Linked DNA regions of Homo sapiens: region 1 is linked to region 2. The links come from fine-mapping of genetic effects on gene expression. Tissue or cell type: fibroblasts. Region 2 holds a variant in brackets; the other region holds the start of a gene. All regions are shown on one strand. Distances are from middle to middle.

Evidence for each region. PIP is the estimated chance that this variant, and not a neighbour inherited with it, causes the effect.
Region 1: it holds the start of SHQ1, and the variant in region 2 is fine-mapped to the expression of SHQ1 in fibroblasts (GTEx, PIP above 0.99).

The regions. Positions count from the first base shown.
Region 1 is chr3:72,843,911-72,852,015 of GRCh38, reverse strand. SHQ1 (SHQ1, H/ACA ribonucleoprotein assembly factor) reads left to right here and starts at 3,571. Exons shown (of 11, transcript NM_018130.3): 1 at 3,571-3,818; 2 at 7,593-7,657. The coding sequence starts at 3,676. RefSeq lists an enhancer at 3,253-3,352.
Region 2 is chr3:72,723,321-72,731,425 of GRCh38, reverse strand. It overlaps a transcript of SHQ1 not described here. Among named protein-coding and RNA genes, the nearest start is that of SHQ1, 120 kb to the left of the region's middle. The variant T/G (reference allele first, on the strand shown) is at 4,798.

The sequences.
Region 1 (8,105 bases), 120 kb before region 2:
GCAATCTCAGCTCACTGCAACCTCCACCTCCCAGGTTCAAAGGATTCTTTTGCCTCACAGCCTTCCGAGTAGCTGGGATTACAGGTGGTGCCACCACACCTGGCTAATTTTTTTGTATTTTTAGTAGAAACAAAGTTTTCCCATGTTGGCCACAGCAGTCTCAAATTCTTGACCTCAAGTGATCCACCCGCCTAGGCCTCCCAAAGTGCTGGGATTACAGGCATGGGCGACCGTGCCCAGCCTGTAATCCTATATTAAGTGAAGAAAGCAAATATAGATTATGACATTCTTTTGTTGAAAATACTTCCCATACTTTTATGAATAGGAGTCTGAAAAGATGTATGCCAAAATAATAACAGTGGTTAAGACGTAGTTTGCAAATACTGTGTAAGATTCCACCACCTCCCCAAAATGGCTCAGAGAATGAACTAGCGCTATAAACAACTTATTCAGGAAGCTATTTTTCAACATAGGTTAAAGCTCCATTCTTTGAGATAACATTGTTTTAATCACCTATATGCATGCCACCTTCTGGAAACAAGGAGTATTTCACCATTAAAAGACTTCTAACAATAGAACTTGGTAATAAAGCTGACATTGGAATTGTTTATAAAAACCATTTTTAATTTAACATTTAATTTGGAAGCTTATGGATCACAATCAGGGTTGTTAGACCAGAGGAGGGGCCAATTTAATATAATGAAAGATGATAGGTTACACACTTGTCCTACATAAGTTGGTCATGGAAAAAACTTTATCTTATTATTTTATTTCATGTTCTCTATAGGCCAGAAGGAAAAACTATTTTTAAAACAGTGGAAGGCCATTCAAAAGTAAGCTTTCAGAAAATGAAAAGATAAAAAACACTGCAACATTTGAATGCTCAAAAATGATGAAAAATTGCATTCCTGTTTTCCCCTCTAAACCAGAGCTAATTTAAAACATTAAAATAATGTCTTTATTCTCAAGCAATGTCTGTATTCAGAAATAGAAACTCAATTTGATCTATGAATCAATATAGCTATGTCTCAAAAATGAACCAAAGTAGGAAAAAAAGCATGTTGCAGAATTACTTTCATAGTGTGAGAATGTGCCCATATAAAGTGGGTCTAAACACAAAGCAACAGGGTCCATAGAAATGGATGTAGAAATAGAAAAGGGTCTGAAGTGATAGCTAGGACTGCCTTTGAGGAAGCAGGAGAAAGAACCAAAGTTGCATGGCAGCCAAAAGGAACTTTATGTTCTTAAGTGAGAATGAATCTATAACTTATATTTACCACTAATAGAAATGCAAAAATAAGAGAACTATTGCCTGCAAGAAAACAAAAACCAACAGAAACCCAAAACAACAAAACCTTGTTATATACTTGAAACTATCCGTATTTTGTGATTTAGCAGATGCAGTATATATTTCTTATAATGACGGCAGCACTGAACCATGTTGTCTGTTTTCCTGTGTTGCAGTCCTGTGTGTGTGTGTGTTGCCAGACACATAATAAAGTACCCAGGAAATGCACAGCTCTAGTTTGCAAAGTGCTTTCAATTAGAATTTCCTCATGGATAGCATAGCTTGTTTCAGTTGATTCTCTGGCATTAATAATTTAAAAATATTAATGCTTGTGACCTACAGGAATGAGGTCCCATGGCAGATGTAAAGATTATTTCTTTTTTTTTTTTTTGAGATGGAGTTTCACTCTTGTCACCCAGGCTGGAGTGAAATGGCACAATCTCGGCTTACTGCAACTTCCGCCTCCTGGGTTCAAGGGATTCTCCTGCCTCAGCCTCCTGAGTAGCTGGGATTATAGGCACACACCACCATGCCTGGCTAATTTTTGTATTTTTAGTAGAGACGGAGTTTCACCATCTTGGCCAGGCTAGTCTCGAACTCCTGACCTCAGGTGATCCACCCCCTCGGCCTCCCAAAGTGGTGGGATTACAGGTGTGAGCCACCGCTCCCGGCCAAGATTCTTTGTAAAGAAGCTAATTTGGAATAGTTTAGTCACAGGCCTATCTCAAGGGACCTTTTGAGAGCTTTATTAAATCAAAGTTGGCATCAATTCATTGTCAATATTGAGTGCCTATTACTTGTAAGGCTCAGTATGGTCTAAAGCAGGCAGGCTTGGCTTTAGAATGTGAAACAAAGTAGGTGGTAATAACAGAGGGAGTCAACTCTGTAATAGTGTAGAGCCTGGGCCTAGGAATCAGACTCACCTGGGTTTCAATTCCCATTGCACCACTTACTAGCTGTGAGATCCTGTGCAAGCCAAGGGAATATATAATGCCTACTTCATAGAGCGGTCAGGAGGGAGAATGAGATCATTACAAAGGGTTTGCTGCAGTGCTGGCACATAGTAAATATTCAGTTAATGTTAGCCCCTGTTACTATTAATTTTTTTTCTGAGTCCTAATGAAGTTTCAAGAATGTCTCCTTAGAATCATAAAACAGCTGGAGATTGAAAAGACTTTTGAAGTTTTCTGGTTATCTCCACTGTCCTAGGAGAGTACTTTTCATCCCTTTTCCACTGATACTTAAAACCACGGAATAAATACCACAACTGGATTATTCTAATTAGTGGTGGAATAACAGGAAACAACATGTGTGGAAAGGCCAAGGGAATATGTGGGGGAAGAGGGAAACCAGCGGGAGAGGCACTGAGAGAGTGTAAGGGGCACACTCCAAAGGGAGAAAATACAAGGAAGACAAGTAGAAAAAAAGACAGAAAAGATGTCCTCAGACAAGTGTAAGGACAAGAGTGAGAAAAAGGAAAGAAGGGGAATACAGAGGGACCTTAATTTGTGAATGCAGTCACCGACACGGTTTAAGAGTCAAACGTTCTGAGTTCTAATTACTGTAAAATGCATGGTTATAAAACGTACTGATTAACCTCTCTGAGCCGTTTTCTTTAGAGTTTGCAGCGTAGATTAGATGAGATTAGCGGGACGGACGCTCTGTTAAAGAGAAAACTCTTCAAATAAGCCGTTAAGAATGAGAGAGAAAGCTGCAGAAAAAGAGAAGTGGAAAGAGAGAGGGAGGAAAGGGAAAGTGTAAGAGGAATTGTTCACAAGGCAGGTGAGAACTAAGGGAAACCACTGTAACGGTGCTGCTGTGGCTACTGCGGTGACTACTTCAGCACATCAAGCGTTGACAACTTGCCAAGTTCGTTATTAGAGTTCTACATGCACAATTTCATGCTACCCTCACAGCATTTCTATGGGGCTAGGTTCTCGCATTATCCGCGTTTTACAGAAGATATAGAGAGGTTTTGTAACTTTCCCAAGGTCTTACAGCTGAGAAGTTGTGGCCAGGAAGGGATTCAAACGCACGTCTGTTTACCTGTCAAGCCAGTGCTGTTAAAATCATCTCTAAGAACCTCGAAAAAGGCTCGGTTGCTAGTCATCCCGCCGGTTCAACGCCGGCTCCCAGGCACCACTCGCCACGCCCTTTCTCCGCCCGGGGGTTTTGAAAGTTCCGCCTCTTCTCGAACGGCGTCCCGTCTCCATGGAGATTGGCGTGGGGAGAGACTTCCTGCCTTACGCGCGAGCACTTCCGCCTCGAGCCGGAAGCTCCGTCCCTCACACCGAGAGTTCCTGCGCGTGGGGAGTTGGAGAGTTTGCGTGGCGGGAACGCGGCGGCAGTGAGAGCGAGCGGCGCCGGCCCTTGCGTCCGGTGCGGCGATGCTGACCCCGGCGTTCGACCTCAGCCAGGATCCGGACTTCCTGACTATCGCCATCCGCGTGCCCTACGCCCGGGTCTCCGAGTTCGACGTCTACTTCGAGGGGTCTGACTTCAAGTTCTACGCCAAGCCATACTTTCTCAGGCGAGTTCGGGGTGCCTGGCCGCAGGAAAGGCGCATTCGTTAGATAGCTGCTTTAGAGGGAGAATGCAAGGTCGAGAGAGCAGTGCTCGATTGCGCGAATGCCTTTTCCCGACGTTTCCGCAGCTTCTCTTGGTGCCAGGGAACTGCCCTCTTCCAGGGGTGCGTTTTAGATGCTGCGGAAGCCCTTTTCCTTCTTGAGCTTTCTTAAATCCCATATCAAAGGATTGCGGAATCACTTGAAAAAGTGACGTTTGGACCGTGTCACTTTCCCGTTTCTGCCCTGTCGCCCTAGTTCTCGTCCCGTTCTGACTTGTTCTGTTCTTTCCTTTCACTCCGCGTTTGCTCTCCCAGTCTCTCCCTTCCTGGGAACGGCGCGCGCTGACATCTCCGTGACTTCCCAACCCGTCGGTCCTTTTAACTTTGCCCAGGCCGCCTTCTGTTGATCTATCTCTTGTCTGTCCGCTCCCTACTTACCGAAATTCTTACCTTTTTTGGACCTCTTGACACCAAATTAGCCTAGTTCTCCTGCTTCCCTGCTGTCTGCTGCTCTTCTGTTTGGTTTTGTCCCTGAAGTGTGGTTGTTTCCCCCAAGTCTCCGTGAGGGTCTGTCAGCACTTGATCTGTTTAAATTATTCTCCTTGCAGAATCGTAACCTTGGTAGCAGCTAACACTGATAACTCGTAGTGTGGTGGACAAGCAGTTCCGTTAAGTGCTTTATGATGGTGTATCTCATTTAACTTTGACGGTGATCCTTAGGGATAAGCACTGCTATTAACCCCATTCCACAGAACCCGCTGCTACATATTCATCCTAAAGTATTGCCAATCTCTTGTCCTTCTCTTTATCCATCCTCCTAATCTTTCTGAAGTGTAGCTGCATCCTACTTTTCCCACCCAAGTACTTTTGTGGTACAAACCTTCTCCACCAGTCAAGGTGGTTTTTTCACTGTTGCTGAACCAGTTTTGCTCAGATTTCCCTTAGACCATATAACGTCCGTATTTGAATTATTGCACTTTCCAGTTTTTTAATTCACTTATTTCTTTAATTTATTTATTGAGTTTCAGTGTTGGTATTATTGTGCTGAACAAGACAAAGTCCTGCCCTCATGTACTTTTCACTGGGGAGAGGAAAACAATAAACAGTGTACTTAATTGTGGTGAGTGCTATGAGGAGAAAGAAGTGCACTAATAGAGAATGAAAAAGGGCCCATGTTTTATAAAGTGGTCAGGAAAAGCCTTTCTGGGGAGGCGATATTTAAGCCAAGATGTGAAGAATAGGAAGAAGATTATGGTGGTAGCAAATATTTATTGAATTTTTACTCCAGGTTAGTGCTTTATACGGATTATCTCATTTGTTATTAGGACAGTGTTACAACGAGGCTTTATTATTTACCCGTTGCCGTGGATGGATTATTTGTGGGCACCCCCCCAACTCTTGTCCCCAAATTCATATGTTAAAGGTCTAATTCCTGTGTCACTTCTGCTTTATTGTATTCATCAAAACAGTCCCAGAGCCTGCTGAATTTTAAGGGGAGGGAACATAGACCTTCATGGTTGGGAAGAGTGCTGTGAGATGGGCATTCTTTGATAATACAGTTTGCCCCCAGATGTGGTGGCTCACTCCTGTAATCCCAGCACTTTGGGATGCCGAGGTGGGCAGATCACTTGAGGTCAGGAGTTTGAGACCGGCCTGACCAACATGGTTAAACCCCATCTGTACTAAAAATACAAAAAAATTATCTGGGCTTGATGGCACGCGCTTGTAGTCCTAGCTACTTGGGAAGCTTGAGGTGAGAGAATCGCTTGAACCTGGGGGGCGAAGGTTGCAGTGAGCCAAGATTGCGCTATCGCACTCCAGCCTGAGTAACAGAGCGAGACTGTCTAAAAAAAAAAAAAAAAAGAACATACAGTTTGCTATACCAAGGATGAATAAAACCTGGTCCCTCTCCTTGAAGAATGGAGACTGTAGCTGCGGAGGCCCCATGTAAGCAAATATAATTTTCTCTGCAGTAAGAATTTAACTCTAGGCTTATAGAGTTTAGGGGAAGGGAGCTGGTAATAATAGCTCACATTTTCTGAATGCTCACCTGTTGTGCCGGCCACTAAGCTCTTTGCATTATCATTTCATGCTCATAGTAACGCTTGGATAGTTACTGTTATTTCCCCCCTTTACAGAAGAGGGATTTATGATTCTTGAAGAATAATTAACTTGTACAAAGAAGGTTGTTACACATCTGGTAAATGGCAGATCTAGGAGTTAATTCAGATTCTGACACTAAAGTTAGCGTTTGTAACCATTATAACAAACTCATCCATAAACTGACCCCTTATTCTGGCTTAGAGGGATTTTCATTCTGAAAATGTATTGAAGCTTGAGGAAACCTTGGGATTAAAGGTCCTGGGCCTTTTGGGACTGTCAGCTGTTTTTGTTTTTAATCATATTTAGTAGGAAACAAGGGGGAGGGCCATGGGAAGAAAGGAAGCTCAAATTTCAAGTTTGGAATGATATGGAGTGGGCCTGATATGCCCTTCTGATAAGTTTAAATTATCTAGGCAACATGAGGCAGCCATAGACACTTTTTAAAATAGAAAAGTGACAATTAGATTCCTGTTTTAGAAAAATTATTTTGGAGCCTCAGTGGAAGACTGATTGAACTAGGGTAAAACTGGAAGCAGGGAAATCACTTCATTTCTTTTTTCTTTTTTTTTTTTTGGACACAGAATCTCACTCTGTTGCCCAGGCTGGAGTGCAGTGGCAAATGATCTCGGCTCACTGCAACCTCCCCTTCCTGGGTTCAAGTGATTCTTCTGCCTCAGCCTCCTGACTGGCTGGGGTTACAGGTGTGCACCACTATGCCTGGCTAATTTTGTATTTTTAGTAGATATAGGGTTTCTCCATTTTGGCCATGTTGGTCTTGAACTCCTGACCTAAGGTGATCGACCCACCTCGGCCTCCCAAAGTGCTAGGATTACAGGCGTAAGCCACCACGCCCAGCCAATCACTTCATTTCTTTTAGTACAAAAGAGGGGTAAATCCCTACATAATAATGATGAGATTTGACACTTTTGCTTTCTGCTTTTTTTTTAAAGTAGTAATTTGCCTGATAAAATCAATTGGTTTTGTGTTTCTTTATTGTTTCCCATTGAGTATCCCTTATCTGTACAGATTGAGTGTCCCTTATATGAAATTTCAGATTTTCTAGAGTTTTGGAATATTTTTGCATACATAATGAGATATCTTGAGGATGGAACTCAAGTTTAAACACAAAATTTATTTGTTTTATATACACCTTATACATATAGCCAGAAGATAGTTTTATGTAATTTTTTAATACTTTTGTGTATGCAGCCAAGTTTTGACTGCTTTTTGACTGTGACTCATCACATGAGGTCAAGTGTGGAGTTTTCCACTTTGTGGTGTCATGTTGGTGCTCAAAAAGTTTCAGATTTTGGAGCATTTCAGATTTTCAGATTAGGGATACTCAACTTGTGTTATAACAATAGTGATAACTACTATTTATTATGGCTTTTCTTTTTCAGTATCTATTTTGTTGGTGACTAGGGGTATTCAAATAGAAAGATGAGTCATCTCTAATTTCTACTTTCTTGGTTGGGGAAAGAATCTAACTTAGTTTATTAAAATGTGAAAGAAATACTGAGGAACTTCTTAAAAAATGATTGATATATTTTGATGGTTAAATGTTTGCAAGTATTGATGGCCACTTATGTTACGTTATAATTTAAGGACTTCATGAGACCTGTGTTAAATCTGCAGATTAACCCTTCCTGGAAGAATTGTAGAAAATGGAAGTGAGCAAGGGTCCTATGATGCAGATAAAGGTATTGTCTTTGGAATTTTTGTTAGTTTATTTCTTGGGATTTTTCACATTATTTACATAATAATCTTACAAGATACCATGGGGACCTTTTGATGTCTTTCAAATACAATCTGTTCCTATCACTCTTTCTTGTTTCTTAGTGTCCAGTGCCTGTTATTGATGTTCCCCACCCCTCACAAGTCTTTTAAAGTATTTCACAATGTTCTTCAAAGTAAAGTTAACTGCTCCGGTTCTATTTCCTAGAGTACTTCCCCTACATTTAGTAGACATTTAAAAGTAAAAATTAGAACATGTGAAATGATTGATCATAAAAAATGTAGATGACTTATGAGCTTATGAATGGAATCTTTCTGGTATAATTTTCAAACTTGAACTTTAATAACAGGTAGGTGAGAGAGAAACTATGCATGGGTGGCATTTAAAGGCTAATTGAATTTTCTCCTCATGAT
Region 2 (8,105 bases):
GCATGTGCCACCGCGCCCAGCCCAAACTGAGGATTTTTTAAAAAAACTTTTTAATGATTGAAAAGAATTTATGGAAATGTCTTTTCTCTTTTGTTATGTAGGTACTTACCTAATAGCCTTGATTCTGCCCCTTGGTCCATAAAACTTAGAATATTGTACCATCTGGACCTTTACAGAAAAAGGTTGCCAATCCCTGGTTTAAGAGAAGGGGTTTGTGAATACCTATCCAGTAGCATTTTGGATGCCTGGCCCATGGCTTCTGGGGTTTCCATGCCCTCCTGGGGGAGGCTGTGCAGAAAGCTGGGACAAGAGGAATGAGGCTGATACTACCCCGAATCCCACCACAGGGGTGGTCCCATGGCTCAGGTCTGGCCAATCAGAGTACCCTGTTCTTCTGGCCACAGTGATTGGTTCAGCAATAAGCAGGTGTCTCAAGCCTAGTCAATCAAAGTCCTCTTGGGGCTTTGGCCAGAGCTACTAGAAATGATACTTTTTCTGAGTTGGTAAGCTGGAAGGAAGCCATTTTTCAGAGGATGATTATCTTTGTATCTATGTGAGGAAAACCTTTCTGGAAAAGAAATTGCATATACCAGAAAGCAGACATGGAAGGAAGAAGGGAGGAAGAGAGAGAGAGAGAGAGAGATTGACACATTTGACATTGACAAGAGGCTGGATGAAGGTGTGTGTACTGCTGGTCATGAAGTGTCTTAATTCTAAGAGATGAAAGGGCCATTTTCGTCCACTGAAATAATAGGCATTATTTGTATGTATCTGTAGTGGCCAGTGACTGACTTCCCAGGAGAAATCGGCATCTCCAGGAGAGAAAAGTAGGGACTTCCTAGTAAAGAGTTCCCCAAGAACCAATAACAGTCACATGGCCCTACAGCAGAGGCATTTTAAGATGTCCGTTGGCTCTGGTTCCTTTTAGAAGCCTCTCCCACATTATATATCAAGTATCCAGTGTACCTATATCATATGTTTGTTAATGTAAATACATTTTAAAGAATTTTTAAACCTGGCACAGTGGCTTATGCCTGTAATCTCAGCACTTTGGGAGGCTGAGGCAGGGGATCACTTGAGGCCAGGAATTCAAGATCAGCCTGCACAACATAGTGATACCCCATCTCTACACAAAATAAAAAATTATCCAGGTGTGGTGACACATGTCTGTAGTCCCAGCTACTCGGGAGGCTGAGGTGGGAGGATCACTTGAACCCAGGAGTTCAGGGCTACAGTGAGTTATGATTGCATCACTGTGCCCCAGCCTGGGCAACAGTGAGACCCTGTCTCTAAAAAAATAAAATTTAGGGCCGGGCACGGTGGCTCACGCCTGTAATTCCAGCACTTTGGGAAGCCGAGGCAGGCGGATCACGAGGTCAGGAGATCGAGACCATCCTGGCTAACACGGTGAAACCCCGTCTCTACTAAAAATACAAAAAATTAGCCTGGTGAGGTGGCGGGCGCCTGTAGTCCCAGCTACTCGGGAGGCCGAGGCAGGAGAATGGCGTGAACCCCGGGGGGCAGAGCCTGCAGTGAGACGAGATCGCGCCACTGCACTCCAGCCTGGGCGACAGTGAGACTCCGTCTCAAAAATAAATAAATAAAATAAAATAAAATTTAATTTGAAAATTAAAAATAAAAAAATAATTTGTGGAATTTTGCTTTTGAACTTACTTGGCTATGAGTAGTAATTCCTTCACTGTATAATGCTATTGGCTGTGCTTTCTCATGCAAACTCAGGAGTTATTACAAAGTGAGGGAACCAACCCATAAATTGTGTTTAGATGTAATAAGATTTTAATGAAAACAAACTTAATGAACAAAGTGGACCTAGTGTTTTTTAGACATTTAATTAAGCATTTCTTCATTTCAATTTTGCATCTTTTTCTTTATTTCGAGCCAATGCCTTTTATTTTTTTCCTGGTCCTCAATGTGTTTGCAAGACCTGGAATTTGTGGCTATAGGCGTGTGTTTCCTGGTGGGTAATGCAGCCTTATCTGGACTGGTCGATCAGGAGGCTGGAGGCAGCACGAGCAGCGGCCCCAGGCTCCAAGAATCTTCATTCTCACAGGTCACATTGGCGATTTCTCTAGGGTGGAATAATCAGCTCAGCAGGGTCTGTGCTTAAGTTCGGAGGCCTGTGACTCACGTTGAAATCAGCACCTCCAGGTGAGGAAAGCCTGGGGTGGCTCAAAACCCAATAGGAGCCACTAACGAATCCAGGGGCAACCGTGACTATTTATGCTCCTGGCACACAAGTCACAAGATAAAAGCTCGGGGCCTCCCCTGGCATTGGAATCTCTCAGAGGTTTATTTGTTCATTCACGCATCAGTTTACTCAGCAAAGAGGAATCACGGAGTTGTTTTTCGTGCCCAACCTGGAGTGGAGGGAGGGGAAGAACAGATGGGACGTGAGGTTTGTCACCGTCACCTGGTCGGCTGGCTTCCTTGCACATTAACATTTTATATCTGGGCTCTCAGTAGCAGCGAGAATCCAACAACAGCATGGCACTGACCTGGTTCTGAGCGTCAAGGAGCCTCAGAGGCTTCTGCTTCTGGGTCCCACTTGGGCGTGGCCCTGTAGTGAACCCCTCAGGCCATTTGGGGGAAGAATGAGGAGGGACTTACACTGAAAGGGCACCTTCTGATCTCCAGGCACTGCATCTATGCTGTTGATTTGCTTCCTAACTTGTGCCTCAAGCAATTGCATCCCTTTTCCAGGTGAGGCAATGGAAGCTCCAGACAGGTGAAATACTTTACCCCAAGTCACACGGCAAGGAAGTGGTAGAGGCAGATTTGACTTCAGAGCAGCCGCACCCCAAACTCTGCACTGTTGGCTTCCATGCTCTTCTCCCTCCCTGAATTTTCAGGAGGGTTCAGAGTCTGTTGGTGGAATTTCTGGTATGCCTCAGATGTAGACTTGTTGCTCCTTTCAGATTAACTGTTTCTGTCCAAAGCCAAGAAGACAGAAGTGGTGGATGTGTCTATAGCTGCCTCGGGCCTCTAGTGCAGGGCAAAGATGCCCCTCAGAGGAGTCAGGTGAGGCTGAAATCGAGCCCACATGTCACCTACCTGTTGGTACGTGGTGTGGGAATTCGTCAGACTGACAGGAAAGGGTTGCTTGCCAGGCTCTGCACCCCTGAAGCCCCATCAACCCAGAGGGGTTCCTCTTAATAAATTGCACAAAAGCACCGCCTTGCTTTGGGTTTTCCTGGAAGCAGACTCCGAGGCAGATATTGCAGTGCAAATCCTTTTGTTTGGGAGGTGACTCCAGGAAGTACTGGTAAGAGAGTAGGGAAGTAAGACAGGGAGGGGAAGCAAAGCATTCACCGTGTGTTGCCATCGTGGACAACTAGACCACAGTCCCACTGGAGAGCCCTGGGGAACAGTAGGGAACATGCCCCTAAATTATCCCAGTGCCCCATCTTTGGTGATGGCTGCTTCCAGGGACTCCACGGCTTGCTCTTCACGCAGGCTGAGTGCACTCTCATGGCCAGAGTAATGCCCTCCTGAAGGATCAGGGTTGTGCCTGATGAACTGCTTGGGTGGCATGTGTGTGCTGATGAGCCGTGTTGGTTGCAGGTGTGAGCGGAGGTGATCTGGTCAGAATGGCAACAGCACCCATCCCACTACCCACAAGGTGAGCCTGACACCGTTACCAAGACTTCTGTCCTTCTGGATTCAACAGGCTCAAGAGATTGTCTGTGCCTCTTCTCCACTGTTTCATTAGCTGAGGTATGAATTTAGGCATCCACCTGTACCGTTGCCCTCCCAAAGGCTGACTTGCGATTGAAAACAAAACAAAACGCTTCTGAAAACAAAACAAAAACGCATTCTGCTCAAACACCATCCCAGGAAACCTCAGGACTTTATAATCAAGTCTGGGATCTGTTCCTAGCTCTGATGTGTGGCCATTTCCTTTGGCTTCTCTTCACTTTCTGCCTCTTTCTCTTCCTCCCCTTTGTCTTTAGAAGCCAATAAGGAAATCCACGTGTCCTGGCTTCTTGCCTTCCTGTTTTTATCCTGTAGACCTCCGGAGGGTTGTTTGGCAAGAGCAGGAGTGGCTGCCTTGGAACTGCACGAGGTTGGGTGGTGAGGCTTGGGAGGGGGCAGCCGCATGGGGTGGGGCTGCTTTGAAGCCATGTTTGTGTATGGTTTACTGATTGGGGGTGACGGGTGGAAACTACGGGGAGCCTCAAACCCCCCTTGGCATTGTCCCCAACAAAGCTGAATTCTTGCTATTGCTGAATCCCCAAGCCCCAGAACTCACAGCCCCGCCTCCATGGCCCTTCGTGGACCCCCTGGTTCCATGGTTTTGCTTGTTCTGGGGCTACATAGCAGACTTCAGTAAGAACTGGAGCAGGAGTTTGGCAGAGATGTCAAGAGTTGACTGAAATCAGAAACCTCCAGCACTAAATTGTGACTGTTTTAGTCTCTGTTCCTCTGACTAGACTGCTGCTGCTCCTTGGAGGCTTTCTGATGTGCCTTTCCAGTTACCCTTTACGATTTTTGCCTATAACACAAATAGCTCCGAAGGAGGCGCAGAACCCTGTTGCTTCATTTGGCACCAATGATCTAATGAGGTGGAAATCCCAGGGATGCTCTCAGGGGGCCGACGCAGTAATTGATATCAATTGGTGTGATTAGAGAAAGCCCTCAATCATCCCGAGGTGTCTCACTGCAATCTGTCATGGTCCTCATCAGATGAGCTTCGCCCTGAGCTTGTGCTGGAATGAGCACCGCTTTCCTGTATTCAGCCCAAAAGCCCAAATGTGGCCCGGCGTGGTGGCTCACACC[T/G]GTAATCCCAGCACTTTGGGAGGCAGAGGTGGGCAGATCACCTGAGGTCAGGAGTTCGAGACCAGCCTGGCCAACATGGCAAAACCCCGTTGCTACTAAAAATACAAAAATTAGCTGACGTGGTGGCATGCACCTGTAATCTCAGCTACTCCAGAGGCTGAGGCAGGAGAATTGCTTGAGCCTGGGAGGCAGAGGTTGCAGTGAGCCAAGATCACGCCATTGCTGATCTCAACCTGGGCGACAGAGCTGGTCTCTGTCTCCAAAAAAAAAAGAAAGGGCCTAACGTAAGCATGAGAGATACATATCTTACTGCCCTGCCCAAGAAGTGAGGACGTGCTTTTCCCACTTGCCTGGGAGGCGGCCTGGCTGAGAGGTCACAGGCCCAGGCTTAAAATCTGACTCCCTGGGCGGGAGTCTTTGCTATGCCTTTATAGGCTGGTGGCCTTGGAACAGTGACTTCACTCCTGGTGCCTCAGTTTCTTTATCTGTAACATATGGTGATAATAGTACTACATTTCTTTTTGGTAGAGACTGGATCTTAATGTTTTTCTCAGGCTGGTCTCAAACTCTGGGGCTCAAGCAATCCTCCTGCCTTGGCCTCCTGAGTAGCTGGGACTATAGCTGCATCACCCCACCCAGCTATCATATTACGTTATTAGCCCTCACACGATTGTTGGGAGGGTTAAATAATATGCGTAAAGTGCTTAGAAACATACCTAGTACATAGTATTTGTTAAGTAAATTCTCTTATTTTTTTCTTCTGCCCATTCCAGAAAGGCTCTGGGGAGTCTAACAGCCAGGACAGACAAAGAGCAGTAAAACAAATACTGAGGAACTCAAGAACCATGTGAGGTTGACACCTGAGGTATTACTTGGACTCTGTACTGCAAAGAACATTTATTCATTCAACAAGCATCTACTGAGTACCTCCGGTGTCCCAGGCACTGTGCTCGTGGCTGGGCTTACAGCTGTGACTTCATAGAGGTTAGATTTGAGTGTGTGCGTGTACACCTGGCATAGGTAAACAAGCAAGTCATTAAGATAATTTCAGAGTGATAAAGATGGTGAAGAAAATGAGCAGGACGAAGTGAAACGGAGGAGTGGGGTGGGGGCAACTCCAGGATGTGCGGTTGGGAAAGGCCTCTCTGAGGAGATGAGGGGACAAGAAAGAAGCAGCCCTGTGAGGCCCCAGGATGAGAACTTTCCACAGAGCGAGCAGCAAGTGCAAAGGCCCTGGGCTGCATGGGAGCTCAGAGAATCAGGAGGATAGCAAGGAGGCTGCCATGCTGGAGGAGAATGAGGGAAGAGAGTGCAGAGGCCAGTTTGGAGAGGCTGAATAAAGCCTGAGTGTGCGTGGTGCAGTGTTCAATTTTTATTTTTGAGGATTTATTTATGTATTTACTTGAGACAGAGGTCTTGCTCTGCCACCAGGCTAGAGGGCAGTGGTACCATCACGGCTCACTACCGCCTCGACCTCCCTGGGTGCAACTAATCCTTCCACCTTAGCCTCCTGAGTAACTGAGAACACAGGTGCATGCCATCTTGCTCTGCCAATTTTTGTATTTTTTGTAGAGATGGCTTTTTGCTATGTTGCCCAGGCTGGTCTTGAACTCCTGAAGTCAAGCAATCCGCCCACCTTGGCCTCCCACCATGCTGGGATTACAGGCGTGAGCCACCGCACCCGGTTTTTTGAGGACTTCAAACAGCAAACAACATAGTTTCCGTTACCAGTTAAAAAGTTTAGAAACCCAGCTGGGTGCGGTGGCTCACGCCTGTAATCCCAGCACTTTGGGAGGCCAAGGCGGGCGGATCACGAGGTCAGGAGACCGAAACCATCCTGGCTAACAAGGTGAAACCCTGTCTCTACTAAAAATACAAAAAAAATTAGCTGGGCATGGTGGTAAGCGCCTGTAGTCCCAGCTACTCGGGAGGCTGAGGCAGGAGAATGGCGTGAACCCGGGAGGCGGAGCTTGCAGTGAGCCGAGATCGCGCCACTGCACTCCAGCCTGGGCAACAGAGTGAGACGCCGTCTCAAAAAAAAAAACAAGTTTAGAAACCCAACTCAAGGTAGCTTAAACAAAAGGAGGGATATATTAAAGAACAGCAACAGTGTCTCAGGGAAGCCAGGGGGAGGAACAGAGCTGGGCTTGAAACTGGGAGGGCGATTTCTCCATCCCCATTGCCGGTTTTCTTTATACTGTTTGTGACCCAGTCCATGTTGTGGAACACAGCTGCCGACTACTCCTGAAATTTGTGAAATTGACTTCTGTAGTCTGGCATCTCAAGGGTGACTCATCTCTCAGTGCCAACACGCCTCAGGTAAGGACTCAGGAACTGGCTTGAGCCAGGAGTCCACTCCTGGACCAATCAGCTATGGCCAGGGTGGAATTGAGTCACACTCCACCTCCTAGTTGTTCTTAAGTAAGGATGGGGGCTGGGCACGGTGGCTCAGGCCTTCAATGCCAGCACTTTGGGAGTCCGAGGTGGGCGGATCACGTGAGATCAGGAGTTCGAGACCAGCCTGGCCAACGTGGTGAAACCCCTTCTCTAATAAAAATATAAAAATTAGCCGAGTGTGGTGGCAGGCGCCTGTAGTCCCAGCTACTCGGGAGGCTGAGGCAGGAGAATCACTTGAACCCAGGAGGCGAAGCTTGCAGAGAGCCGAGATCATGCCACTGCACTCCAGCCTGTGTGACGGAGTGAGATGTTGTCTCAAAAAAAAAAAAAAAAAAAAAGTAAGGATGGGGCTCTGGGCAGGGAGAAATAATTCTCAAAGAGGGGAATGAGGGAAGAGTAAACAAAGGATCTAAGTTGCCAGAAAACCAGAAACTAAAGAATGAATGTACCTAGAAGCAAGCTCAGAATTTAGCTCTGAGCTTTGTGGTAGCCAAAGCTTTAAAAAAAAGAAAAAAAAGGAAAGAAAGAAAACAACGAATAAGCATCTGAGTTCTGATTGGCTAATAAAATAAGGCACAGCAGATCACGAGGAGAGAGAAGCATTTTCTTCCATGAAAGCTGAGAGGACATTCTTTAGGTTTCTATGTGGAAGGGGACTAAGAAATACAATAAATGACTCATTCAGCAACAGTTGAATTTAGATTTCTGAGATGATTAAGTTTTTCACAATGTGTGGGGAGTCCCTCCTGGTGAATTCTGAAAGTAGAGGGGACATTATTAAATTTCAGTGCAAGGGTAGGCAGGGTGTGTTTGAGGGGGAACCAAAGTCATGCTCATTATGTTTTCTTTCGATGACCTCATTGGCTCTTGGAGACCTCAGTGCCGTGGTAAAAAACTCAGGGTTTACCTAC